Linked DNA regions of Homo sapiens. The protein of the gene in region 4 interacts with the protein of the main gene of each other region in a biochemical or structural test. Each region holds a gene or a part of one and is shown on either strand. Other genes may lie near its edges.

Region 1 (4,255 bases), on a different chromosome or scaffold from region 4:
CTTAAATGATATTTTTTGTACTGTATCTGGCAACTAATATATTCTACTGCAGATTTAGTTGGCATGATAATGGCAATTGATTTTAGTCAAAAATGATTACACATATGTGCACAGTGAATGGAAAATGTATTCTTTTAAATGGGGTTAGTTCATGTGAAATGGCTGGATACACAGAACATGCATTCTTTTTAGCAGGTTGGCTTGTTATCATCATTTGAATTATTATTGCCTTTTACCACTTAATGCTCAGAAACTGTTTTTCTTCGAAAGTGTGCACTGAAGTCTCTTCTGCTACATTAACATGCTTTTTCCAAAAACACGTTCCAAATGTACTCCTTTAAACTATACTTGAAGAAAAGCAACACATGGATTAAACTCTACTGTAGAAAAACAAACCCAAATACAAAAACCTCACCTAAAATGAAACCCCAAGTTTTTATTATAATTTTCTTATTAAAATACAAATAAAACCGACACTCCTGGGAGATAAATATGAAGGCCGAAGACATAAATTTATGAGGACAAACAGTTTAAATATATTTTCTAAGTGCAAACACTTTTACACCACTTGAAGCATATATTTTATATTGCAATATTGCTTGGATAAGTGTATTTTCATTGAGTTTATACTTATTCTTTGTATATTGTTTCAGACTTGCTTACATTTCTAAATCTTCAAAGATCCAAATGAGAGTTGAAAGTTTTACAAAATAATTGAAATAAAATAGATTATCTATGGAATACACCCATACTTTCAAGAATCTTAAGTCCTGAAACCCTGAAATAATTACACATGAAAGAAGAAAGATGTCTAACTTCTTATGAAACATTAGCTTAAAGAATATCAGGATAAACAAGGTACTGCTATAAAAGATAACTGAGACTTCCCCACACCAGAAAGTCAAACTCAAACTTTCTGAGTGTTAAGTAAATTCTGAATGACTATAAACCTGGATAGGTACACATTCCCATGTTTGGGATTCACGTTAAAATTAGGTTAATTCAGATGAGTACATCAACTTCTCCAAAAACTCCCCCGAGTTTTCTAAGACACTTTTTCCTATAGTTCCAAAACTATTTGAAATCTCCCTAACAATTTTAGCTTTCTGAATTTTAAAGTACAAGTACGCTCGCTGCCAGGATGACAAGGCTGCAGTTAACACACGCCATAGCCACATGCTGCCCTCTGTGCTGAATCCAAATGACACTAGGTGAAAGTGCTTTATCAGACTGTGATGTGCCACACAAATGTGAAGAAGTACTATTACTATTCCTACCACTGACACTAGACACCATGCTGAGACCATGAAACAAGGACTGAGTGAGTGAGTCTTCCTGTGAACTGGAAGTCGTTCCAATTAACAGGAAACTTCAGTTTTTATGAATGTTATTCTCCCCTAAACAGTTCGTATTAACCTCTGAAAGTTGAATCTGCAACAGATAGACCAGGTAATCCCATATGAGCTGCTGTTTACTGAATTAAGCTAAAGTGACCATTTGTTTTGCAATGAAGACGCAAACTATAAATCTTGGTAAATATTGTAAACTGGAAAATTGGTACATATTTCTCATTCATCAAACTTAACTCTATATGTACCTAGTTATTACCAGTTATTTTTACATCATATTTTTAACAAACTGAAGTATATTAAACTAAATTAAAAAACAATAAATATTAGCCAAATTACTAGATTATCATTTACAGATTTAACACACAGTGATAACAAAAAACCCAATGTCAACTACCTTTGATCAATTTTCCTCAAAATATTTCAAGCCATTTATTAAAAATTGTACTTTCTATTTTACTCTTTCTGAAGCACATCAAAATAAAGCATTGGTGGCACAAAAGGTAATATTGATATGATCAGAAGAATAATTTTAACGATAGTCATGGCATAAAACATATTAAAATAAAACATATATTCTCAACCAAGACAGACATTAAAGTACTGATTTTTCTTCCTCTTTTTGCAGGTAGCAGCTAGGTGGTGATGTCTATTTGTGGATTCCACTGACATTGTTAATTTAAATAATAACATTATGGGAAAACACCATTAGAGCTGATTTCTTAACATTCTCAGGCTAGATTAAGAGGAAAATAAATTCTACAAAGTAAATATTCCAAGATTCCTGGTTCATATATTATTCAATATCAATTGTTTATTTTTATACTATACTGAAACCAGCAAAGAGCAGTGAAAAGACTATGGACTTTAGAGTGGAGCTAAGCTGGGTTCAAATCCTACTTTTACCACAATGTGGCTGTGCCACCTTGGGCAAGTTGCTGAACCTCTCTGAACCTTCACCTCTTACCCTTTCACACAGGGCTTTTATAGCCTTTTCGTGGCAATCAGAAGAGATGGCTTATATGAATCAGTATCAAATTCATGCTTTCCATACATTCAGTAAATACACAGAAAACTTCTCTCAACAGGCAGTATGTTTATATAATAAATGACTACTCACTACTGGTAGGCACTGTGTTTGATGCATTATGTAGACTGTCTTAAACAAGGACATTGCATATAAGTATGAGCTGATATTGATACTGCACAAACTCTGAAATAATTATTAGAGCTACGTACTACTCCCAAATGTTAAAGGCCTGACAGATTTTGATACTACAGCAATAGCATCCATCAATGGGAGGGTTTTTAAAAATAGGACTTTTTTTCTACTTTTAAACCTAACATGTATAACTATGAGACATATGACAAAGCAATACTCTAGTTGTGAGTAAAAACAAATTGAATTTTTATAACATTAATAATTTCATCTTTTCCATGTTGTAATTGTATATTATTTCTAAAACCCAGAAAAATACAAAGTCTACTTCTAAAGTCCAAAACTAATCTATACTTACTGTCATTTCATCTCATTATGAACTCAATACTGTGGCCTGGCCTGCTGTTATGTGAATAATATGAAACTCTCCATTGATTTAACATCACAATAAAAATTACATACATATAAACGTTAGCACCAAGGGACTGTTTCCAGGTTTGGAAACAGATTTATCAATGTTGTGATCTTACCTGGTAAATAGATTGCCGTGCCTTCCACTGACTCTTCATTAATGCCAATCAGGAAATCTGTTTCATTAGAAGTCTCCAGAAGGGAAAATGGTGGTGTTGCAACCTCAGTATTAAATTCCACAGGGTTTACTGTTGCCTGATCATTGGAATCAAGAATTCTCGCTGCCACTTGCTGTTCTGATGCTGCTATCGTGGAATCCTGCCCTCTGATTAAAGCTGCTTGAGTTTCAGGGTTTATTTCTGGAGAAGAAGAAAGCGTGGGCCTCTCAGAAGTCTGTGGACTTAGCCAAGGCACCACACCTGCCTCGACCCCATAGGTGGCAGAAGCAGAAGTAGAGTGTGGCCACTGTGTAGCACCTTCTAATTCAATTTCATCGGCAGTTGTAATAACAGTTCCAGCCTCAGGTGTTTTAATGGTGGGAAACATCTTGATTGCTTCTCCAGAAACTTGACCATCGGTTTTGTTTTGGAAATCTTGGAGAATCTCAGTTCCTTCCACAGCAATAAGTTCTGTGGGAGAAGCTTCCATTTCTTCTAATAACTCAGGTTTACCATCATCTTCTGAAGGTTCTAATTTTGTGTCAGGAGATAAAGAGGGAGGCTCAGTTATGTGAAGGTATTCCTCACTTGATGGTTTGAAAGTCGCTTCAATATTTACATGAATTTCCTTAAAAGAATCCTGTGGGGACATTACAGATGAGCCGACGTCTATTCCTGGCAGAGCACTGGGCTGGGGGATCTCTGTGTGTCCAGAGGCTTCACTGCCTGAGTAGATAGTGAGGGGAGATGATGGTGTCTGAGAAGACAACTTCGCAAATGTTGAAACTGCTAATGTTGTATCAGTGTAATATGGGGGATTGGATCCTTCCATCACATCAGGCACCTCTGTTACACTCTGATCCATAAGGTGGGTAGTAGCAATACTTAGATAGGGAGTATGGTCTACTAATGCCTCCTCAGCTCCTGAAGAGAATTCTGGCTGAAAAGAAGGACCAGCATGTTTTTTGTCTTCATACTCCTCCTGAGTCCTTTCAAATTGGCCCAATGTTGGTATTATTTCACTTTGGTCTGCAATAGCTTGACCATCAGACAAAGTGCTTGATTCAAACATGTCATCCAGGGCTTTTGCTTCAGCTTTTATTCCTTCAATCTCTGGAATAACTGTGGCAGACTTACGAGGAATTGGCAGGGATGTTGCCGTGGGAAGTAAAACGTCT
Region 2 (4,255 bases), on a different chromosome or scaffold from region 4:
TCATGTACCCCATAAATGTATATACCTCCTATGTACCCATAAAAATTAAATTTTTTAGTTTAAAAAAACAAGATTATATTAGAGTTCATGCTACTTTTTAAATGCTCCAGAGAGTGTCAGAAAAAAAAAATGGTGAATGCTTATTTCCTGAGCCAGATTTGATATTTTGATTCTTGGTAACTTTTTTTTTTTTTTTTTTTTTTTTTTTTTTTGAGACGGAGTCTGGCCTCTGTCGCCCAGGTTGGAGTGCAGTGGCGCAATCTCGGCTCACTGCAAGCTCCGCCTCCCGGGTTCACGCCATTCTCCTGCCTTAGCCTCCCGAGTAGCTGGGACTACAGGCGCCCACCACTACGCCCGGCTAATTTGTTGTATTTTTAGTAGAGACGGGGTTTCACCATGTTAGCCAGGATGGTCTCGATCTCCTGACTTCGTGATCCGCCCGCCTCGGCCTCCCAAAGTGCTGGGATTACAGGCGTGAGCCACCGCGCCCGGCCTCTTGGTAACTTTTAAGTCAGTTAGTGCCTCAAGGCTACCTTTTTAATGATTTGCAAAGCAAGTTTATACATTACTATTCTTTTCCTTTTTTACTTAAAATATTTTGTATTTCAGAGATTTAACTCCTATGAAACAGGAAACAGCTATGAAATAGGATTTCTCAGGAGTCCAGATTGATCAGAAAAGGGTCTGGTGGCACAGCAGGAAAGAAATCACTTACCAAGTGACCGATCATAAAATTGTTCACTTATGGACTCGTCTGAAATGAGACCTGTAACACAGTAATAATCATAAGACAAGACTCCTCTCACTGTTCCAGAATGTTCTATGACTTTACTGTTAATGCCACAAATATGCTTCTTAAGCAAAGAAGCAGTGAGAGATCACCATTGAGTTTTATTGCCGTCAGCACTAATAGGAAAAATGCCTCCTAAATCATAGAACACTAACCCAACCCACTTTGTATTAAAAGCCACACAAGAAAAGAAAGAAGGAGAGCCCTTCCTCCCTGAACTAAGACATTCAAAGAGATGATCAGATCTAGTTGTATGGCTGAAAGACGATAGAATTCAGACTGTTTACTCCTGATCCTCCCAGCTAGACATTCTTAAGGGGAAAACCAACACTGGCTCCGCTTACTTGGCAGAGATGTTGGGGCCATCAAATGGAATTATGTATGGAAAAGCTCTGTTGTGAATACAAAGGAATATCTAAGTGAATAGTTGTATCATTATTACCTAGTGATAAAAAATAAGCAAAAGCAAAACAAAATGTTAATTTTCTATGGCTGTAATTGTTGCAAGATTACATACATATGTATTTCTAGTTTTAAATGACTCACTAACAAAGAGTTGCAATATGGAGTTATTTTAAGAAAAAAAGTTAAAAAGAACAGATCTTAACTTACCAAATAGATAATTGTTTCTCCATTTATGAGATCCCAACATGTCCCCAAAAATCATCTAAAGAAATTCAGGCATCAGGATGTGTCAGCACATGAAAGAAAGAAAAAGGAAAGACACTGAAAAATGTAAATGTCATCTGGAAGACTCTGATATATGTTATATAATCCATTTTTAATGAAATAGGCAATACGTTATATTAAATAACTTTATATATATCAAACATATAAGTCTAAAAAAGCACATGGGGAAGAGCAAACTACGTGAAGTTTAAATTACCCACAGATCTTTCCCCTAGACTGAGAATGTACTCCCAAACATTGCCGGCTTCCAGAAAAGCAAAACCCTGTTACACAGACTTGCACACAGACTAAGTTTAGATCGAATTTTAGAGGTTTCTCTCTATAAAGTCACTGTAATATGTTCAGTAGGAAAAGGTGTCCACAAGAAGTTTTCATGAAACCACTAAAAGTCCATGCAATCATCACAAAGTAAAGTGGTTGCTTGGCTCGCAGTCTTTCTACCAAGAGTCTTGGTAGGCTGTCCTCCCTGTCCTGAACAGTCAGGTAATTTCTTGGCCTCCATCACAGTAGTTGGACTGGGAAGGGACACATACCAAGACAATTTAAGAGAGAAAGAACATTCTTTTCAACAGATAGTGCTGATACTACCAGATATGCACATGCAAAAGAATGAAGTCAAACCCCTTCCTCACAACATATGCAAAAATCAAGTCAACATGGATCATAGACCTAATGTAAGACTACAGAAACAACAAAACAAAAAATAGATAAACTGGAGTTCATCAAAATTTAATTTTGCTCTTCAAAGGGCACCATCAAGAAAGTAAAAGACAACCCATAGAGGGGGAGAAAATATTTCAAAACAACTAAATAAAAAGACAAATAGTGCAATTAAATCATAGGCAAGGATTTGAATAGACATTTCTTCAAAGAAGATGTATAATGGCCAATCATTAGTCGTTAGAAAAATGTAAATTAAAACCACAATGAGAGCTAGGCACAGTGGTTCATGCCTGTAATCCCAGCACTTTGGGAGGCAAGGCAGGCAGACTAGCTGAGGCCAGGAGTTGGAGACCAGGCAGGCCAACATGGCAAAACCCCGTCTCTACTAAAAATACAAAAATTAGCCATGCATGGTGGCACGCACGTGTAGTCCCAGCTTCTTGGGAGGCTGAGGCACTACAATTGCTTGAACCCAGGAGACAGAGGTTATAGTGAGCCGAGATTGTGCCACCGCACTCCAGACTGAGTGACAGAGTGAGACTCTGTCAACAACAACAAAAAAAACTACAATGAGATACCACGTCACACTCACTAGAATGGCTAAAATAAAAAAGACAGGCACCAACAAGAACTGACAAAAATGTATAGAAACTGAAATCCTCATACATTACTGGTGGGAATGTAAAATGGTACAGCTGCTATGGAAATAATGTGGCAGTTCCTCAAAAAGTTAAACATAAAGTCACTATACGGTCATTAAACATAGAGTTACTATATGATCCAGGAATTCTGTTTCCAAGAGAATTAAATACATGTGTACACAAAAACTTGCACATGAATGCTTCTAGCCTCATTATCTATGATAGCCAAAAAGGGAGAAATAAGCAAAATGTCGATCAATGAATGAATGGATCAATCAAATGTGGCTCTGTAAAACGGAACAATACAAAGGAATGAAGCATTGATGCATGCTACAACATGGATAAACCTCCAGAACATTATGCTAAGTGAAACAAGTCAGTCACAAAAGAATACAGGCTGTACGATTCCATTTGTATGAAATGATCAGAATGGACAAATCCATAGACACACAAAGTAGATTAGTGGTTGCCAAGTGTTAGGAGGAATGAGGAATAGAGAACAACTGTTACTGGGGTCTCTCTCCCGCGTGATAAAAGTGTTCTGGATTTAAATGGTGGTGGCAGTTGTGAATATGCTAGAAACCACTGAACTGTACATATTAAAAGGGTGAATTCTATGGTATGTAAATTATATCTCCACCAAAATGTATTTTTAAAGGGGGGTATCAAAACATCACATTGTACACAAGTAAATATATAAAATTTAAAATAAATTAATAATAAAGTTATATGTATAAAAGAACAAAAAGAGGGGACACCTAAGCCAGGCCAATAGAGGGAATACCAAGAGGTTTCTCTAACTGGCAGCAGAGAGAAATGCCTCTTTTCCCTCCTAAGTACAGAGGACATAAGTCTGGAGTAGCTTGAGGCTTTACTTCCTGCTGCAAGGGGAAAGCCTCTCTGCAGCAAGGGTGGACGTGGAGTGCAGAAGGCACAGTGACAGAGAGAGAGAGAGAGACAGAGGAAGGAGGAGAAGATGGAGGAGGCTCAGAGAAGGAAGGAGAAGGAGAGGGAGAGGGAGGAGGAAAGGGAGGAAGAGAGAGAGAGAAAAGGGAATGAGGGGGAGAAGGAAGAGGGAGGGGCAGAGGGGAGGGGAGGCCAGGAGAGAAGGGGAAGGAGAAGAATGTGGCACATACAGGACTGAAGGACTCTAAGTCGAGTTGTCCCTGAAGCCAACTTCTCTCCTTCCTTTCTGGGAATGTGATCCAGGGAATTACCTCTTTTTGGCTTAGACTACTTCTAGTTGAATATCTATCTTTTGAAATGAAAGGCAGTAAATAAATTAAATGCCCGTCACCCCTCCCGTAAGCTCAGAATTCCTGTCATCATTCTTCTTCAGTTTCTCTCTCTTATTTTGGGTCTCGTGTCGGAAACCCTAGCTGACTTCATCCTATCCGCTCCAAATCAGAAGGATTTGTCTAAAGTCAAGCTCACTCATTAGAAACTGAAGAAAGAGAAAGAGAGCTCCAAC
Region 3 (5,051 bases), on a different chromosome or scaffold from region 4:
TAATACCACTTATATAAGGTAGCTAAAGTAGTCAAACTCATAGAATCAAAGAGTATAATGCTGGTTGCCAGTGGCTGGGGGAGGACGAAACGAGGGGTTACTAATCAATGGGCACAAAGTTTTAATACAGCAAGATGAGTAAGCTATACAACAGTGTACCCGTAGTTAACAATAATGGATTGTACACTTAAAAATATAACAGGGTAGATCTCATGTTAAGGGTTCTTACTATAATAAAATAAGATAAATAAATAAATAAATACATGCTATCATATCCCTATTAGCCTCTACAAAAAGAAACCAAACCTCAAATTTTAAAAAGAGGTGTTTATAAATGACAAATTGCCATTTAAATACACCATGACTGTTGTGTTTGGTCTCAATAAAGAAATGATTTTAAAACTGTGGACATAGCTAAAGCATCTCTATCACAAAAGAAACAATGGCTTATCAGTCTATGAGCAACTTTTTAGTGTTTCTTACAAATCAGGACACTTAATAATAATTGAGAAAACTTAAAAAAAATTCCTTTGAAATGCTTGGGATTACTTCAAACAGAAGAAAGAATCTCCACAATTAGAATGTACTTACAAGTGATTTGTCACAATTTTCAGCTGACTCATCAGCAACACATGTTTTTGCAAATTCAGTTACTTCATTCACTAATTTTACATGATCTTCAAATGGACACTGCTGAAGATACTGAGCAAAGGCAATCAACACCCTGAAACAAAGGATGTAGAAAAATGTAGTATAATAAAACTTTAATATGTAACAGGTTGCTACGCTAGAGAACAAATCATGTATGGGTATAGGTTCTATCTTTTATACATCTTCTTCACCATTATCCAGAAAGCCTATTCATATCAGGTATGATCTGAGGCCTAGATAGGCATATGTGGCTTCCTACGCAAAGAGAATGGTAGTTCCCTAATGTTTATATGTATGCGTGTGTCAGTAGATCTATGCACACACATAGATTAAGCAAGCAAATTGTATGCCAAATAGATCTAATTGTCAAGACTAGGCATTTTTAAAGTCCTTAGAATTACTTAAAACTAAAACAAACCCCACAGATTTCCTTTTTCTTTTTTGAGACAGAGTCTCACTCTGTCACCCAGGCTGGAGTGCAGTGGCACAATCATGGCTCACTGTAGCCTTGACCTCTCAGGTCCAAACGATCCTCCTACGTCAGCCTCCTAAGTAGCTAGGACTACAGGCATGTGCCACCATGCCTAATTTTTTTGTTTGTTTGTTTTGTTTTTTTTAAAGAGACTTGCCCAGGCTGGTCTTGAACTCCTGGGCTCAAGCAATCCTCCTGCATCAGCCTTCCAAAGTGCTGGGATTACAGGTGTGAACCACCGCACCTGATCCCCACACACGTCTTTAATTAGCCTGTAGGATTAGGTAGACTTTTAAAAAAACAATTTTCTCATTTTTTACTAGATTAAAAAACATTTAAATAGGCCGGGCGCGGTGGCTCACTCCTGTAATCCCAGCACTTTGGGAGGCCGAGGTGGGCAGATCACGATGTCAGGAGATTGAGACCATCCTGGCACACGGTGAAACCCCATCTCTACTAAAAATACAAAAGATTAGCCGGGCGTGATGGCGGGCGCCTGTAGTCCCAGCTACTCGGGAGGCTGAGGCAGGAGAATGGCGTGAACCCGGGAGGCGGAGTTTGCAGTGAGCCGAGATTGCGCCACTGCACTCCAGCCTGGGCGACAGAGCGAGACCCTGTCTTAAAAAAAAAAAAAAATTAAATATTCCCAACTAAGCACAGGAATGCTTGCTATGTAAAGAAGATTTAGTGGGTAAGCCACCAAAGGAAACCTATATTAAAGTCCTTTCCACCAAGCAAGTTCCAGAGCTGTACTGTCCAATACAGTAGCCATTAGCCACATGTGACTATATACATTCAAATTAACTACAATTAAATACAATTTAAGTTTTTGTTTCTCAGTTGCACTTGTCATATTTGAAGTACTCAATAGCCATGTGACCAGTGACTACCTTATTGGATAGCCCAGATACAGAATATCTTCCTCAACGCAGAAAACTCTACGAGGCAGCACTGTTTTAGAATCTGAACCCTGATGACAAGGAAATATAAGCACTTTAGAATAATAAACAACACTATTAGAAACATTAAATTTGATTCATCAATATTTTAACTTACAAGGCTTTGAAATTTTCTTCTCCCAAATCTTTAAACCGATGAGCAACCTCACTCTTGTCTGGGCAAGGGAAGAAAAAAAAGGATTGTTAAATACTGAAGAAAACAAGAAGTAATAATGTTACTTTTTATATTTCTTTCCATTTGACTTAGATTATGCATTTGTTTCAAAATATTGGGCTCTGATTCCTACAGAAAAACTCAGGATGATGTTCAATTATTTCTTCTGCCTTTAAACAGAAGAATAATTCAATTACCAAGAATACTATTTTAAAAATTATTAAATATTTATAGCCTTATATTCAAACTTAGATAATATCTAATACTCTTTTAGTGTCTATCAACAGCAACCAAGAAGACAGACTAAAATGAAAATAAATATAAATACAAGTTCTATTTATGAGATCAACAGCACAGGTTTTGTGGTTTTTAAATAAAGCATAGTGCAATGGATAGGTCTTTGGGATAGTTATGAATTCAATCTTCAACCCTATTCTGTGAAGTTTCAGTCACTCTAAGTTACTTTGCACTTTCCTTAGTGCGCAAAAGAAAATTACAGTCACTAAACAATTCTGACCTTTTTTTTTTTTTACCTAGGATGTTTGAATTTTATTAATAAGATAACCTTGTAAGACTTCACAAATACAAAATACTATGCCATTTTAGAAATAAATGCCAAAATAATTCTTTAAAGATGCAGAGTTTACTAAAACTTTATTTTACTGGGAAAATAGAATAAAAGTTGAACAATAGAAAAATGGATTTCTTACGTGCATCTCGACGAAACACACCCCTGGAATAAGCCGAGCTAAAGAGAAAAAGAAGGGAAATAAAGGTTACCCACTTCATTGTGCCAAAGGCGTGTGGGGTTGACAGAAGAGAAAAGCTAGGACAAACGGAGGGAAATTAGCACTAATATACTTCTTTAACCAATAATTGTAGATTATTAACTAGACTCATCTTTGTATTTCATTGGCTGCCAACCGATTACAAAATTCATAATATTCTTGCCAAAAAATTGTTTGACTAAATCCCTTGTGTATATTTACCATCTGGAACTGTTTTCTCCACAAGACCTTGTCAATGTATTAAAGTTGTGTAAAACATCTTATCAAATTTTACATAAGAGTTTAAACGATTTGTACCTTTTATTCATTACCATGGTATTTAACTGTAATTTCCCACTTGAACATTTTAGTTCTTGGTGTTTGCAATTTAGTTCTCAGTGTTTAGTAATTACTAACCAAACTAAATACTTTGCTTAGAAATAAGACATACTGAAAGAGTTAAGTCCCAAATTGCATCTATTGCTAATTCCAAGTGTGCTTTTACCTATAGATAATGAAAAATTTACACACAAGTACTCACGCATGCACACACACATATACATACATACATATTTTAGGGCTTCTGTGTCTTTTTTACTATTCCAAAGCCATTCTGTCTGAAAAAGCTGATGTTGCCTCAGATGCAAACTAAGAAAAAGACATAGCAACAATAACAAGTAAGATAGGACTTAGAAATTCCATGTTCCCATTCCTGCTGTGGCCCACATGTGATTCAAGCCCTGAGATAGGCTATTTAGATTCAGTGTGAGTATATCTCATGGGATCTTCAGTTAAGCAGAGATGGAGAGGAAAATGGACCCAAATGAGATGATGATTATCTTTGCCATAATATACAATAGGACAGGCTGACCCCAAATTCTCTGTAGGTTATGAGAACCCTTGACCTTCACCAGGCATAGGATTCTTTCCATCCCTGTTTCATATTTTTTTCCTTTCTCTCTTTCAATAAGTAGAAAAATCACATGTTCTTTTATGTTGCTTTAAATTTCAAAATAAATTTAACATTATGTCTAAAAACAAAGCGAAGGAAGAATAATTTTTTAAATATTTCATAAATCTTCCTTCCCTACCCAAGGTTCTTATCTCTACCTCAGAAAAGCTATCCTACCTCTGCCCTTTTGCTCAGAATATGAAGAACTACTGAGCTCAACCAGTAGGAAGAACAACTTTCTCTGATACTACAGAACAATAATTAGTACTAAGCCAGTTATTTTACTTAATTAAATAACTCAGTCAGTCAAAACCAGTAGTCAAATTTCCTCATGGCACATAGAGGCACAGAGACTAACAAAGTATTATTTTTTCTACTCAGTCTTATAATGAAAGAAAATTTTTTCTATTCAGTCTTACAATGAAAGAAATTATTTTCTATAATCTTATGTTATTTCTTCTTCAGAAATGGGTACTAATTAACTAATAAAGCACAGAAGAGGAAAAAATCAAAGCTAGATGGATGATAGATACATAGATAGATAGGAAGATTTTTTTTAATGACTCAAGGGAGTCCTGAAAGGAAATACCAGACTTGTCTTTCTGACTACAGATGAACAGACATAAAACAAGTGTGCCTATTTTCCATTGAAGAAAAACAAGCATTTTTTCTAAAGCCAGAAAAACCTACATCTGAAAAGAAAAAAGAAACTATTCTAAGTTAAGAAAATAATTCTTTCTTGGATAAATTATGTCAACTTTTAACTTCCTAGAAATTGTAGGCATTATTTATTAGAAGTCAGTAACCAACTCTAGCTTTTTCCTTGTAGAAGTCCCTGGGAAAGGCCTACCCAAACATAAAATCCTTACTGTTGAATACAATTGTTACTAATTGACAAATTCAGGCCTTTGTCACTCTCACATATACTTTGTGCATACTTTTTCATTTAACAAATGAAAAGAATAATATTAGTCCATTTAGTTTTCACCACAACATTATAATGTAATATATTGTTAAATACAAAGAAACCTAAAAAAATCTCAAATTCATCATGACTGAATAGAAACTTTGAATTGATTTTCCTATATCTAATGAA
Region 4 (3,457 bases):
AGGATGCCGTGACAGCACCATGGACAGATGGGGTGGCTTCAACCACAGACAGTCCCAGAGGCTGGAGTCCGAGGTCACTGCACGGCAGGGCTGGTTCCTCCAGGCCTCTCTGTGGCTCGTGGATGTCATCCTCTCCGTGTCCTCACGGGGCCGTCCCTGTGTCTCCTCTCCTCATAAGGGCTCTTGTCAGATTGGACCGGGACCACCCGAACCCTCCCGCCACTTAATCACCTCTTTTGGTTCAGTCCCAAACAGAGAGAGACATGGGGGGGCCGGCTCCAGCCAGTGGATGAAGGGGCCACAGCACCTCCCTGGCTGCCCCACACGCAATGTCTGCCTGGCGCATCCTCTGCCCTTGCCGACTTCCTTGCCATGTGCAGGGCCCTGTTTGTGACCCATCTGTGCATTTACTGTGCGTCTCCCGCTGCTCTGCAAGGCGGCGGTGATGAGGACAGAGCTGAGTCTCTCAGGCCCCGCTGCACCCAGCCTGGCACAGCTCAAATGGGTGTCAGGGACTTTGTGGAACGGACAGGTGAGTGGATGCAGAGGCTCTTAGAAGAGGGGGCCACAGTGACCGGCCCCACAGCTGATTTCTTAGGGCTCCTGGGCCGTGTGACGCTGGGCAGGTGGTAGCCAGCATGCTGGCTCCTGCCTCTGCCCCTCACATGGTGCCAGCAGGGGAGATGCTGGCCTGGGAGCCCAGCCCCATCTCTGCAGCCCCGAGGCCAGCAGTGGGAAGGGGCTGGCACCCTTCACGGTGCCCCTCACTCACCACAGCCCCGGGGCAGCTGCCCCACGCATGGCTGCCCAGTCCTGCTGGAACACTGGAAGCTGCCCATGCCAGGGCTACAGACAGGGGCTGCCCTCGGGGCCGCCGCAGCTTTGGGTCGCGGCCCCAGCCTCTGAGAGCAACCCAGGACGGACCGCCCTGCCTTGGAGGTGGGGCCCCACCTGGCCTGTTTGCACCAGGGCTTGGCAGGCAGCCCCCTCCGACCCCAGCAGGCCTCGGGTCCAGGCCACCTTGAATGCCGACTCCTGGCCATGCCTGGTTCCAGGACTGGTTTTTCTTTGGAGAGGGGGTGGACAGGCAGCCACACACCAGGGTGTGAGGGACCCGCCCCGTGAGGCCGACACACATCTGCTGTACCTTTATTGCACTTTTATGACATTGCAAACTATTCCACAAAACTCTGCAAAGGTCAGCCCACAGCTGCGCACAGCCAGCCCTGCAGGATGCACTTGCACCAACCGTCCACAGCCAAGTCCGAGGTGGGTGCTGCAGGCCAGCGGGCGGACTCGCAGGACGCCTGGTCATCGGGTCCTCCAAAACCACGTAGGCATCCGTCCACCAGCGCACAGGCCAGACGTCCAGCGAGAGCCTCCTCCCGTCCTCAGACGAGACCCTCCAGCCCTCCAGGAGCCGAGGCCCCAGGAAGGAGAAAGGGTTTTTACTTGAATTAGGTCCCGAGTGTGAGAGCACTTGAGGGGTGAGCTTGGCCTTGAGGGGCCCCCAGAACCAGGGAGGGCGGTCCTCGTGTTTGGTTTGGTAGGTGATTGGCATCTGTGTACACGTCTCTGTTTATATACTTATTCATCAAATATAAATACAAAATAGTAAATAAAGGCTCCTTTCCCTACAGAAAGGATGGAATGCCTCCGGCGCCGGCCGCCTCTGTCCGTGAGCACAGACAGCGCTTCCTTCCCAAGCTTTTCTGGTCAAACACTGACAAAATGTGTCCTATGAGACCTGGGGAGCCTCGCCTCCTGTGGCAGCAGCTCCCGACTCCGGATGATCCCGTCCTGCCTCTGAATTCACTGAATTCACGACGGGCGCATGCGCTTGCTGGGAGGTCCGGCGCCTCTGTCTCCGTCCCGGGCAGCGCAGCGGCCGGCGGACACTACCTCGCCGAGGCGGCTCTGTGCTCAGTGTCCAGGTCGTCATCCACCACGCTGTGGAGCCCGTTCCTCTCCACGCAGTCCCGGACGGCCTTTAGCACGACGCGGAGCCGCCGGTCCAGGGCCTCCAGGTGCGGCTGGTACAGCACGGGTGCCACCTGGTCCCCCCGCAGAGACTCGGCCATCAGCAGGCTCAGCTTGTACTCCTCCTTGGCCAGGAGCTGCAGACGCAGGTAGGTGGACTTCCGGATCCTGGGGAGGAGAGGGGCATCAGGCCTGGCACGGGACAGGGGAGATGCCTGCCCACGGGAAAGCGAGAGAAAGTGAGAGGGAGATCGAGAGAGTGGGGGGAGAGACAGAGAGAGAAAGAGGGGGACAGAGACAGAGAGAAAAAGACAGAGACATACACAGAGAAAGAGAGACACAGAGAGAAAGAGAGGGAGAGAGAAAGGCAGACAGACAGAGACAGACAGACAGAAAGAGACACAGATAAAGAGAAACAGGCAGACCGAGACAGAGAGAGAGACAGAGACAGACACAGATAGAGACGGCAGAGACGAGAGAGACCGCGAGAGAGGGGCCTGCGATCCAACACCTCATCAGCCTCCGGGCTGTGTGACCTGCTTCGGCGTGGTCTGCCGCCTCTCACCTGCACAAGGGATGAGGGTGCCCTTGCAGGATGTGGTGGCCGGTGTATTTCCCAGAGGGGCCCGGCAGGAGGATGGGGAGGTGAGGAGGGCGGCCCGCTCACCCAGGAGGATGGGGAGGTGAGGAGGGCGGCCCACTCACCCAGGAGACCGACCCCAGCTCAGCACATCCGCACAACACGGGCGCTGTGATGCCTCCTTAGAGAAGTACAAAGCGTTTGCCCTGCAAGCCTGCGTCCCCAGCCATGAAACGGGGGAAAGGGGGTCTGAACCCCCGCAGAAGGTGGCAGTGGCAGAGACCGGCAGCTGCGTGCGGGAGCAGGGTCCCTGTGTCTCAGCTGGCGTCTGCCCTGGCCTCGAGCTCTCTCTGTAACTGGGGTGGCAGGACGGACACAGAGTGGAGGCCCGAGGGGGCTCGAGCTGGATGGGCCTGGGGTGGTGGGCGGGTGAGGTCTGCGCCTCCAGGCCGCCGAGTGAGGGTGTGGGTTGAATTCAGGGCTGTGGTTGAATTCGGGGCCTTTTCTCTCCCATGTGATGGCCGGGGTGGGGTGGGGAAGGCTGTGGCCTCCTCTGTCTCCTGCGCAGTAGGGAGGAGGGTGGAGCTGGAGCCGGCTCCGGCAGGGGCTGTACCTGCAGCACTGCTGTAGCGGCACCAGGATGGAGAGCTCGTCGTGCGAATACTTCCCAAACCTTCCAGAAGAAAAGCAGAATTGTCAAGGGCCCCTGTACAAGGTTCCTAACAGGCTGCTGGGCTGGGAGCTGGGCCATGGGTCCACCTGCCTGTACCCGACACCCCAGGCAGTGGGTCCACCCAGCCCATCTCCAGCACCCCGGGCAGTGGGTCCATCCCACCCATCTCCAGCACCCCAGGCAGTGGGTCCATCCCACCCATCTCCAGCACCCCAGGCAGTGGG
Region 5 (4,255 bases), on a different chromosome or scaffold from region 4:
TTAAACATATACTTATCATTAACAAATTACCTCTCCTTGCTGCTGGTCCTCATGTTTAACCTTCTCAACTTTCTGCTAAAGATATATCATATATAAAGATATGTTACCATCTGTAAAGATTAAAAGGAGGAAATTTTGAAAATGTGTACATTTTAAATGTGAAAATTTACCTTGTATTCTGTAATAGATTCCTACAGAAAAATATAAAATAAAATTAGGTTTAGTTTTAACAATTCTTACTTTGCAATATAAATCAGGAAATAAAGGCATTAATTCTTTGATAATATCATTAATAACTTTGTATAATCATTAAACTTATGTATTAAACTGTTCTATATGAGCTTGTTATGTAAAAGAAAGTCAGATGAATGCAGTCAAGAAGGACATGGTACAAAAAAAAGCAATTAATAGATGCTAATTTCTCTCTACCACCATGCTCATTCCCTGACAACAAATGATATCTAAAACCCCATCTGATTTTTAAAAAAAGAAATACTCATTGAAAATATATTCTAATAACAATTGATACATTATGATCACTTCAAATGAATCATAAGAGTTAAACACTTCCCTTAAGGATCATATAACCTTTCTGAAGAGACAGAATCTATTGATGTACCATTTACTTATCAAGTGATCACACACCCAAGAAGAGTGGTGTAAGAATAAATATCTACCTGACTCTCTCAGGTAAATTTAGGACTACACTAAATCTCGCTTATTTACTAAAGTGGCTATTGTAATTATAAAATGTGTCCTTTTTGCACGTCTGCCTACCTACTACTTAGCAAGCTCTTAACTATCACTGGCATCTCTAACTTTTCAGTTTGTACCACAGCTCCTAGTCAATGTCTGACCCATAGAAGGCCGTCAGTATATGCTTAAGGTGAATAAGTTCAGAGTAAAGAGAGTTCAAGGCAGAAAACAGGACAATATGGTTCATTAAAAAAAAAAGAAGCAAAATAACACAATTTCAAGTAGCAAGCCAATTTACAAAGTTCTAGAATGTTGTATTATCCAGATACTTATTGTCCTTAAACACACATAAAAGAAATATGTACTAGAACTTATATGTCATTAACATAGCTGCATTAGCTTAACTGCCATGATGTAACACCATAGAAAAATAGCACAGGATTTTACTGTTCTAAAATTGGGTAGAATGTTAACTTACCTCACTGCTTGAAAGGCTTTCTATGGTCTGTGGGAAAAAAAAATTGACAACCAGCTAAATCTTCTAGATCATTAGAGAATTTTACTATTTTATGGTTCATAAATTTTCTCTAAAAAAATAATCTCACCTCAGAGGATGCATTGGATTGTTCCTTCTGAAAAGATGTTTAAAAATTCAACTTCTATAGCTAACTCATTGTTAAACATGCATCCTACTTAATTTTTACATCACTTATGCAGAGCTATCTCTTTCACAAATTTGAGAAATAAAAAATGTTATATGACTTTTGAGGTTTAAAAGGTAATTACTTTAATGTCTTTTATATTTAGTAATCTATTAATATATTTTTATCTTACATTTATTAAAGACAGAGTTTTTTATGGGTAAAAGAAGAGTCACTTTAATTTGTATTAAATATTTTTATTATATTATTATTAATATATTTATGATCATGATTATGATTGTCTCTGTACTTCATCCCATGGATGTCTTTGTACAGACAGACACAGGATTTGACCCAGTGCCCTAGGCTGTAAGGTATATATACATTTTATCACTGGAATAAGATATATTTATCTAGCTTGAGAATCTTTGGAGTTGTATTTATGCAATATTATATTTCGTTGCCATTTTTATGATTTTTTATTACTTATTGATTTGTTTGCTTTTTCTTTAGTGACTAGCAGCACATTGGTGCAGGAAGCATTTGGGGCACTATAGGAAACTGTTGAGACAGTGGGTAAATATAAATGATTTTGATAGAAGCCAAGAGAATTCTCATGAAATTCTTCATTATTTATACAGTAAAAAATGTTGGTGATGTTATTCTCTACAAATAAGCATATAGTCCACTATTTATTGATTGTTTAGGAATTTTTTCTTGTGCACATACCTCCCTTGCAAGAGCAAGAGCCACCAGGCAGGCGAGGATGAGGACCTTCATGGCTACTAAGTCCTGTGAATGTAGAAAAAATGGAATGGTGGAAGATTGGTCAATTGGATATACTTTCTTATGTAGGTAAGGTTACTTTTTATAAAACAAAAAAAAAAGAGAGATAATATATAACAAAAATATCTGCATTTAGAAAATAAATAGAATAAATACTAAATAGAAGTTATATCACATGAAGGAGGTCAAAATCCATTCTGGCTTGCGATTCTCATTTTTCAAATTCCAAACTTCATTGCCAGCTATTCAGATTTTTCAGCTAACAACTCTATCCCCACTTTTAAAAAAGTCCCATTTACAGTATTGAATTTTTCAAAAGGCATAAAGAAGTTATAAATATGTATGGAAAGATTTATGCAACACATCAAAAAGCTTATCCACCATGATCAAGTGGGCTTCATCCCTGGGATGCAAGGCTGGTTCAACATACGAAAATCAATAAATGTAATCCAGCATATAAACAAAACCAAAGACAAAAACCACATGATTATCTCAATAGATGCAGAAAAGGCCTTTGACAAAATTCAACAACACTTCATGCTAAAAACTCTCAATAATTTAGGTATTGATGGGACATATCTCAAAATAATAAGAGCTATCTATGACAAACCCACTGCCAATATCATACTGAATGGACAAAAACTGGAAGCATTCCCGTTAAAAATTGGCACAAGACAGGGATGCCCTCTCTCACCACTCCTATTCAACATAGTGTTGGAAGTTCTGGCCAGGGCAATTAGGCAGGAGAAGGAAATAAAGGTCATTCAATTAGGAAAAGAGGAAGTCAAATTGTCCCTGTTTGCAGATGACATGACTGTGTATCTAGAAAACCCCATCGTCTCAGCCCAAAGTCTCCTTAAGCTGATAAGCAACTTCAGCAAAGTCTCAGGATACAAAATCAATGTGCAAAAATCACAAGCATTCATATACACCAATAACAGACAAACAGAGAGCCAAATCATGAGTGAACTCCCATTCAAAATTGCTTCAAAGAGAATAAAATCCCTAGGAATCCAACTTACAAGGGATGAGAAGGACCTCTCCAAGGAGAACTACAAACCACTGCTCAAGGAAATAAAAGAGGATACAAACAAATGGAAGAACATTCCATGCTCATGGGTAGGAAGAATCAATATCATGAAAATGGCCATACTGCCCAAGGTAATTTATAGATTCAATGCCATCCCCATTAAGCTACCAATGACTTTCTTCACAGAATTGAAAAAAACTACTTTAAAGTTCATATGGAACCAAAAAAGAGGCCACATTGCCAAGTAAATCCTAAGCCAAAAGAACAAAGCTGGAGGCATCATGCTACCTGACTTCAAACTATACTACAAGGCTACAGTAACCAAAACAGCATGGTACTTGGTACCAAAACTGATACCAAGACCAATGGAACAGGAAAGAGCCCTCAGAAATAATGCCGCATGTCTACAACTATCTGATCTTTGACAAAGCTGACAAAAACAAGCAATGGGGAAAGGATTCCCTATTTAATAAATGGTGCTGGGAAAACTGGCTAGCCATATGTAGAAAGCTGAAACCGGGTCCCTTCCTTACACCTTATACAAAAATTAATTCAAGGTGGATTAAAGACTTACATGTCAGACCTAAAACCATAAAAACCCTAGAAGAAAACCTAGGCAATACCATTCAGGACATAGGCATGGGCAAGGACTTCATGTGTAAAAGACCAAAAGCAATGGCAACAAAAGCCAAAATTGACAAATGGGATCTAATTAAACTAAAGAACTTCTGCACAGCAAAAGAAACTACCATCAGAGTGAACAGGCAACCTGCAGAATGAGAGAAAATTTTTGCAATCTACTCATCTGACAAAGGGCTAATATCCAGAATCTACAATGAACTCCAACAAATTTACAAGAAAAAAACAAACAACCCCATCAAAAAGTGGGCAAAGGATATGAACAAACACTTCTCAAAAGAAGACATTTATACAGCCAAAAATCACATGAAAAAATGCTCATCATCACTGGCCATCAGAGAAATGCAAATCAAAACCACAATGAGATACCATCTCACACCAGTTAGAATGGCGATCATTAAAAAGTCAGGAAACAACAGGTGCTGGAGAGGATGTGGAGAAATAGGAACACTTTTACACTGTT
Region 6 (3,202 bases), on a different chromosome or scaffold from region 4:
GTAGTTTGAGGCCGGGAGGTCCAAGATGCAGTGAGCCATGCTCATGCCACGGGACGCCAGCCTCACAACAGAGTGAGACCAAACAAACAAACAAAAAACCCCCAAAAACCCAAAACATGATCTTGTTAAAGCCCAACCTGGCGCAGTGTGGAGAATGATCCAGGACATGGGCAGGGACGGGCAGTTGCACATGGAAGACCATTCTGGAAGTTCTTGCAGGAGTCTGGGCAAAACGTGAGGACAGACTGGATGGGGGTGTTTGCTGTCTGGATGTCCCTCTTTGCCCCTCTATTACTCGATAATCTTCTCCCAATCTGCACACAGGCCCCTCTGACACTAGTCAGCCTCGAGCGTCCCATGTCAATCCCGGGCTCTGACTCGCAGATGGAAACCACACCTGTGCTCAGCCAGAGCCAGACATGTACAAGCTTTCTGTGGGTGCCCCAGTGGGGTTGGTGGGGTTTTGAGGTCTCAGGGAAATGACCAGCTGGGAAAGTGAGAGTCCAGTGAGCAAGCAGGAGGGGCCATGGAAGCCTCGTTTCCCGAGACCCTGGAAGAAGGATCATGAGGAAGGGAAGTCAGGCACCCAGAGCCCAGGGGAGCCTCCATCGGCACCACAAAGGCACAGCCATCAGTCAGTGCTGATTGGACCCAAGTCTCCAGGACACAAGATGGGGAGAGCTGGGTGGACCTGAGACATCACCTTGTCCAGGTACCCTTCTACAGCTGATGAGGAAACTGAGGCTCAGAGAGGCGAGGTCTCGTGACCACAAGCGGGGTTGAACTCCTGGACACACCTCAAGGTTCCTTGACCTGTTCCTGGCATCTCCTTTCATTTTTCCTTTCTTCCCAAATTAACCTCTTTCCAACACAGCACTTCAAGTTCCCCTGGAACTTCATCGGTCCATCGGTGTCCCCTGGTCTGGAAGAGCACCGACCACTTGCCAAGGCCCCCACCACTCTGCTGCCATCACAACCACCATCACCACCATTACGAGAAAAACTTGAGACTGATGGCCCCCAAAGCTTGGAAAGAGCTGAGAGACCAAAGAATGACTCGAACAAGTCCAGCTTGATGAGTAGGTGAGTTTATTGGGACTTACACACAGGTCAATCCTGGGCGGCGACAAGACAGCTCTAGAGATCTGAGCTTCCTCCCAATGCTAAACTGCTTTCATGCTAATTTTCTGACTGTTTACTTACCGGGTAAGAGCGATGGGACTGTTTTCATTGGTTGGTTCTCACATACTCTCTGGGAAGTTTGGGTTCTCAGGGACACCTGCTCCTCAGCTGGGGACCATGGCCATGGCCCACCACCTGCCCTTCAGTGTTCAAGCAGGGGACATGCACCCTTTAGTAACCTGGAGGGGACCCATCACATGACAACCACCCCAATGACCATCATCAGGAAGCCGCTGCCTGACTGAGATATGCCCCCAGGAGGACAAGGGAGAGTGGATGCTGGAAAGACAGGGCAGGGGACCATCACCAGGGAAAGACTTCATTCTTCGGAGGACATTGAACCTGGGGCTGGGTCTGTAGTGGAGCCGCTGTTTCTTCTCCTGTATCCAACTGTTCTAACTCTTGGGCTTTCTCCATTTTCAGCTCTTTCTTTTCCTGGCCTTCTCATTGCTGGTTCCTTCAAGCCTCCTCTCTATTCTTCCGTCAATATATTCTTTTTTTTTTTTTTTTTGAGATGGAGTCTCGCTCTGTCACCCAGGCTGGAGTGCAGTGGCGATATCTCGGCTCACTGCAAGCTCCACCTCCCAGGTTCACGCCATTCTCCTGCCTCAGCCGCCCAGTTAGCTGGAACTACAGGCGCCCGCCACCATGCCCGGCTAATTTTTTGTATTTTTAGTAGAGACGGGGTTTCACTGTGTTAGCCAGGATGGTCTCGATCTCCTGACCTCGTGATCCGCCCGCCTTGGCCTCCCAAAGTGCTCGGATTACAGGCATGAGCCACTACACCCGGCCCCCCAATATATTCTTTAGTCTAAAGTAAACTGCTTCTTCCCATTCCCCACACTCTCCAGTTCCCATTTTTCCCTTATTGCAGGCTCCAATGTTCCTGCCTTCTCCTTGCTGCACTGCCATCTGCATTAACCCCTCCCCTGCTGTGCTCAGCTATGGAAATGCCAAAGTCCCTAACACTCAGTTCCATAAACTTTACCTCACCCTCTTTATCCCCCTAATAAAATGTTTGCATTTGGGTCAAAAGCGATGGCTCACGCCTGTAATCCCAGCACTTTGGGAGGCCAAGGTGGGCAGATCAAGAGGTCAGGAGATCGAGACCATCCTGGCCAACATGGTGAAACCCCATCTCTATTAAAAATACAAAAATTAGCTGGGCATGGTGGTAGGCGCCTGTAGTCCCAGCTACTTGGGAGGCCAAGGCAGGAGAATCGCTTGAACACGGGAGGCAGAGCTTGCAGTGAGCTGAGATCGCACCATTGCACTCCAACTTGGCGACAGAGCAAGACTCTGTCTCAGAAAAAAAAAAAAGTTTGCATTTTGTCCTGGCCCCTGCCAGGCATATCTCTCCTGGTGGCTGCCCTGCCCTGTGGTCACAGTTCTTGGTCCGCCTGCAGAATCTTATAATTATTGTTGAGAATGTTTAGCTTCTCCTCCAGCTCCTGAGCCACCTTCTTCAGCTCCTCAGCTGTCTCTGACTTTGCCCCCTCATGTAAGTGCTTTGATTCGTACACGAGGTAGACTACATCCAGCACAAGAAAGAAGCTTACAGGGGCCACATCCGTGAGCTTGACTCCTCTGCTCATTTCCAGGATGCTGGGTTCATTAACCCTCTCCACCTGTTCACCGCTTTCAGCTGAGATTGGCTCAGTGACCCGGGGGCGTGAGGCTGAGGCATGCGGTACTGACTGAAGATTGGCTCTGGCTCGTCTGAGGGCACGGATGTCCTTCCCAATGCCTCGTGTGAGTTGGTAAGTATTGCCAGCTAAGGAAAGAAAGTTGGATATGTTCTCACCCAAAAACTCCCTCACCTCCTTCAATTTGTCAAGGCTTTTGATGACCAGGTCGTGGGCTTGGGCTTGTGTCCACCACTTCTTTCCGTAGTCCATGGTACTGCTGGTAATCCCGGTCAAAGCGGCTGTGATTCCCAACTCCATCCCAGGTTCCAAGAGTACAAGGCTGCCTCCCTCTGTGAAGGGTGCCAGACCCATGCCGACGAGGGTCAGGATGC
Region 7 (4,255 bases), on a different chromosome or scaffold from region 4:
GTCCCTTAAGAGAAGATCAATGGGATGGTCCCCAGCCAAAAGCCTCTTTTCATCCAGGTAAATTTTCTTGACCTGGGATTAGGAAGGCAGAAGACTGTCAGAGAATCAGACAAATGTAATGGACTTGTCACTTGCTATAAACTTTACTTGAAGAGTGACAGTAACACGATAGGGGAAAACAAGCTCAGGACATCATGTGCAACTAAATGAAATTCCTTCCAATCAATACTACAGGCCTTTCTCATGTCTACACAGAATAGCACCTGATGTAAGAAACCTCTGGTTTTTAGAAGAAATTTAAATTCTTTTTTAAACTTTTAAATATTTTAAGTATGTTTTGCCTCTTTCTTTTAACCAAGTAATGTTCGCTGCTTTTTTTTTTTTTTTTTAAACTATGAGGTTTTAATGAAAAGGGCTGAATTGACTAAGGTGATTAGTTAGTGAAAAGTGCTGCTCCTTCCCCCGATGACAGAGTCCACTCTTAGTCTTCTAGGTCATCCATCCAGTGCCCACTCAGTCTTGCTTTCACCCTGGTGTGTTATTGCTTGGCCAGCCCCATTGAAATTTCCCTGTTTCATAGCTAATACCCTCAAGGCTCTCTGTGACAAGGTATTCAAGACGGGGGCTAGAAATTATTCTTGAGCAGTGCCTGTGAAACTCTCAGCTTGTGATGTTGCCTCTTATTTCACTGAGTAATTGGAAGCAAACAGGACCTCCACCTGCTCCCAGAACCACAACTTTGCTCCCTGCGACCTTCCTGTGCTCCTAACCTAAGTCCAATCCCTCTCCTCTGGGTGGGACATGTATCGAAGAACGCCCTCTGGCAGTTGTGCGCATTCTCTGCTCCCCACTAACATTTCCTTCTTGACTGGGTTATTTCCAGAAGCGTGCAAACATCCTCTACCATCTCCCACTGCTAGGTGGGACTCTTGTACTCACTTTCCACTCCAGCTGCCACCCCATTTCTCTTTATCTCTTCATAGCAAAACTCCTTGAAAGGATTGTCTATACTTGCTGCATCCATTCCTCCTAGTCTCTGTTGAACTCTGTCCACTGGAGCTTCCCTCCTGAAACATGCTCCCACCCCAGGAACAGTTCCTATCAAGGTCAGCTATGACTTTGACATGCTAAATCCCTGGCCAATTCTCAGTCTTCAACTCATAACCTATAAACAGCATCTGACACAGTTAATGCACACCCTCCTTCTTGTTTTATTTGTCTTCACACCATGTTTAATCCCAACTGACATACTTATACATATATTTGCTGATTTGGTTATATTTACATAAATGCTCATTTTACTATATATAATTGCATATATGCATATATATGTATGTACAAATATATGCATATACAAACATTACATACACACACACATATATACTTATTTGTTTAGAGTCTGTCTCTTCACCCAGAATGTAAACTCATGAAGGCAGAGATTTTCTTTTCGTTGCTGTATCTCCAGTATTTAGGTCAATTTCTGGCACCCAGGATACACTCAATAACTATCTGGTGAATGAATTTTCTCTGGAAGCTTTTGGAATCAATGTTCTGTGCTTTTTAATCTTAATATATTACTGATATTTTGAGTAATGGATTTACTTTATATCATACATCTATGTCTGGCCTATGAGAACAAAACAAATGCTTAGATTTAAATAAGATGTTTGGACTGACTAGATCAATGCTAAATTTATATTAACTTTGCTCAACCAGAGCTTGCTCTAGGTAGGAATTGAAGAGCCCTAATTCAGGCCACTGACCATTGGGAAGAATGGGGCGGTTTGGTGGTGTCTGAAACCTTGTGGCGTGAATGGTGACATCTATTATTCTGTTAAGCCACATGGGCTAACCGGGCATGGGGAAGCATAGTGGGCTTTTGCCAGTATGCAGAGGTAGGTAGCCCCCCCACCACGTCTTTCTTCCTCATGCCCTGTAGACAGACATTGAAGAAGCTAACCTGTGGATAACTTACTTTATTTCTCTGCTTCTCATTTAGATAACCAGCGTGTTCAGAGTTGGCTTCATAAAGCTGCATGAGGATATTCTTGAGCCAGTCTCTCATCCGTAGAGGAAACTGAATCACTTCAAAGTCCGTACAAGTAGGAATAGCTGTTACAAGCAGAAAATGTACTGTAATCTTTGGGCTTATTTGTGTCCTATGGCAAGTCCTCATAATAGGAAGCTTAACGACTTCTGGCAACTGACAGAGCTTTCTCAGGTCCCCATTATTATGACAGTGGTCCTCAGCCCTGGCAGCAGCACAACAAAATTGCCTGGGGTTTTAAAAAACATACCAAATGCCAGCTTCCAATCAAGTAAATTCTGATGTGATTGGTCTGGCGTGAAGTCTGGGCATCAGGATGTTTTTAAAGCTCCAAGATCTATTTGGATGTGCAGCTAGGCCCCAGAATCACTGCTGTAGAATCAGAGTTGAAATTTGTAGGTGGAGGGCACAAGTGCTATTGAATAGAGAAAAAGGTAGCTATTAGCTGATACTACAGTAAGAAATAATGCTAAATCTCAGTGGCTTAAAGAAACAGAAGTCAATTTTGCAATCCTGCTACAAGTCCAATACAAGTTGGCAGGAGGGCTCTGCTCATTGCAGTCTCCCCAGAGCTCAGGATCACTGCCGTTTTTTTTTTTTTTTAATTATACTTTAAGTTCTGAGATACATGTGCAGAATGTGCAGGTTTGTTACATAGGTATACACATGCCATAGTGGTTTGCTGCACCCATCAACCCATCATCTACATTAGGTATTTCTCCTAATGCTATCCCTCTCCTAGTCCCCCAGCCCCTGACAGGCCCTGGTATATGATGTTCCCCTCCCTGTGTCCATGTGTTTTCACTGTTCAACTCCCACTTATGAGTGAGAACATGCAGTGTTTGGTTTTCTGTTCCTGTGTTAGTTTGCTGAGAATGATGGTTTCCAGCTTCATCCATGTCTCTGCAAAGGACATGAACTTATCCTTTTTTATGGCTGCATAGTATTCCATGGTGTATATGTGTCATATTTTCTTTATCCAGTCTATCACTGATGGGCATTTTGGTTGGTTCCAAGTCTTTACTATTGTGAACAGTGCTGTAATAAACATATGTGTGAATGCATCTTTATAGTAGAATGATTTGTAACCCTTTGGGTATATACCCAGTAATGGGATTGCTGTATCAAATGGTATTTGTAGTTCTAGATCCTTGAGGAATTGCCACACTGTCTTCCACAATGATTGAACTAATTTACTCCCACCAACAATATGAAAGCGTTCCTATTTCTTCACATCCTCTCCAGTATCTGTTGTTTCCTGACTTTTTAATGATCGCCATTCTAACTGGTGAGAGATGGTATCTCATTGTGGTTTTGATTTGCATTTCTCTAATGACGAGTGATTATGAGCTTTTTTTCATATGTTTTTTGGCTGCATAAATGTCTTCTTTTTGAGAAGTGTCTGTTCATATCCTTCACCCACTTTTTGATGGGGTTGTTTTTTTCTTGTAAATTTGTATCTGTTCCTTGTAGATTCTGGGTATAAGCCCTTAGTTAGATTGACAGATTGCAAAAATTTTCTCCCATTCTGTAGGTTGCCTGTTTACTCTGATGATAGTTTCTTTTGCTGTGCAGAAGCTCTTTAGTTTAATTAGATCCCATTAATCAATTTTGGCTTTTGTTGCCATTGCTTTTGGTGTTTTAGTCATGAAGCCTTTGCCCATGCCTATGTCCTGAATGGTATTGCCTAAGTTTTCTTCTAGGGTTTTTATGGTTTTAGGTCTTATGTTTAAGTCTTTAATCCATCTTGAGTTAATTTTTGTATGAAGTGTAAGGAAGGGATCCAGTTTCAGTTTTCTGCATATGGCTAGCCAGTTTTCCCAGCACCATTTATTAAATAAGGAATCCTTTCCCCATTGCTTATTTTTGTCAGGTTTGTCAAATATCAGATGGCTGTATATGTGTGGCATTATTTCTGAGCCATCTGCTCTGTTCCATTGGTCTATATATCTGTTTTGATACCAGTACAATGCTGTTTTAGTTACTGTAGCCTTGTAGTATAGTTTGAAGTTAGTTAGCGTGATGCCTCCAGCTTTGTTGTTTTTGCTTAGGATTGTCTTGGATATATGGGCTCTTTTTTGGTTCCCAACTTTAAAGTAGTTTTTTTCTAATTCTGTGAAGAAAGTCAGTGGTAGCTTGATGGGGATAGGATTGAATCTATAAATTACTTTGGGCAGTACAACCATTTTCACGATATTGATTCTTCCT

Evidence for each region.
Region 1: of the proteins of FAM20C (region 4) and VCAN, one has a biochemical effect on the other in vitro, tested with the Homo sapiens proteins (one large-scale study listed by IntAct).
Region 2: of the proteins of FAM20C (region 4) and SPP2, one has a biochemical effect on the other in vitro, tested with the Homo sapiens proteins (one large-scale study listed by IntAct).
Region 3: of the proteins of FAM20C (region 4) and ALB, one has a biochemical effect on the other in vitro, tested with the Homo sapiens proteins (one large-scale study listed by IntAct).
Region 5: of the proteins of FAM20C (region 4) and CSN2, one has a biochemical effect on the other in vitro, tested with the Homo sapiens proteins (one large-scale study listed by IntAct).
Region 6: of the proteins of FAM20C (region 4) and APOL1, one has a biochemical effect on the other in vitro, tested with the Homo sapiens proteins (one large-scale study listed by IntAct).
Region 7: of the proteins of FAM20C (region 4) and SPARCL1, one has a biochemical effect on the other in vitro, tested with the Homo sapiens proteins (one large-scale study listed by IntAct).

The regions. Positions count from the first base shown.
Region 1 is NC_000005.10:83,541,052-83,545,306, reverse strand, and holds part of VCAN (versican core protein isoform 1 precursor), read right to left. Parts: coding exon 3,039-4,255; intron 1-3,038. UniProt on the Homo sapiens protein: May play a role in intercellular signaling and in connecting cells with the extracellular matrix. May take part in the regulation of cell motility, growth and differentiation. Binds hyaluronic acid.
Region 2 is NC_000002.12:234,063,735-234,067,989, reverse strand, and holds part of SPP2 (secreted phosphoprotein 24 precursor), read right to left. Parts: intron 1,458-4,255; coding exon 1,403-1,457; intron 767-1,402; coding exon 716-766; intron 1-715. UniProt on the Homo sapiens protein: Could coordinate an aspect of bone turnover.
Region 3 is NC_000004.12:73,402,302-73,407,352, reverse strand, and holds the start of ALB (albumin preproprotein), read right to left. Parts: upstream 3,067-5,051; 5' UTR 3,026-3,066; coding exon 2,947-3,025; intron 2,238-2,946; coding exon 2,180-2,237; intron 725-2,179; coding exon 592-724; intron 1-591. UniProt on the Homo sapiens protein: Binds water, Ca(2+), Na(+), K(+), fatty acids, hormones, bilirubin and drugs. Its main function is the regulation of the colloidal osmotic pressure of blood. Major zinc transporter in plasma, typically binds about 80% of all plasma zinc.
Region 4 is NC_000007.14:258,422-261,878, reverse strand, and holds the end of FAM20C (extracellular serine/threonine protein kinase FAM20C precursor), read right to left. Parts: intron 3,234-3,457; coding exon 3,174-3,233; intron 2,149-3,173; coding exon 1,899-2,148; 3' UTR 1,107-1,898; downstream 1-1,106. UniProt on the Homo sapiens protein: Golgi serine/threonine protein kinase that phosphorylates secretory pathway proteins within Ser-x-Glu/pSer motifs and plays a key role in biomineralization of bones and teeth.
Region 5 is NC_000004.12:69,958,879-69,963,133, forward strand, and holds part of CSN2 (beta-casein isoform 1 precursor), read right to left. Parts: intron 2,130-4,255; 5' UTR 2,118-2,129; coding exon 2,067-2,117; intron 1,202-2,066; coding exon 1,175-1,201; intron 192-1,174; coding exon 171-191; intron 76-170; coding exon 31-75; intron 1-30. UniProt on the Homo sapiens protein: Important role in determination of the surface properties of the casein micelles.
Region 6 is NC_000022.11:36,265,396-36,268,597, reverse strand, and holds the end of APOL1 (apolipoprotein L1 isoform a precursor), read right to left. Parts: coding exon 2,565-3,202; 3' UTR 1,073-2,564; downstream 1-1,072. UniProt on the Homo sapiens protein: May play a role in lipid exchange and transport throughout the body. May participate in reverse cholesterol transport from peripheral cells to the liver.
Region 7 is NC_000004.12:87,480,449-87,484,703, forward strand, and holds part of SPARCL1 (SPARC-like protein 1 isoform 1 precursor), read right to left. Parts: intron 2,113-4,255; coding exon 1,976-2,112; intron 73-1,975; coding exon 1-72.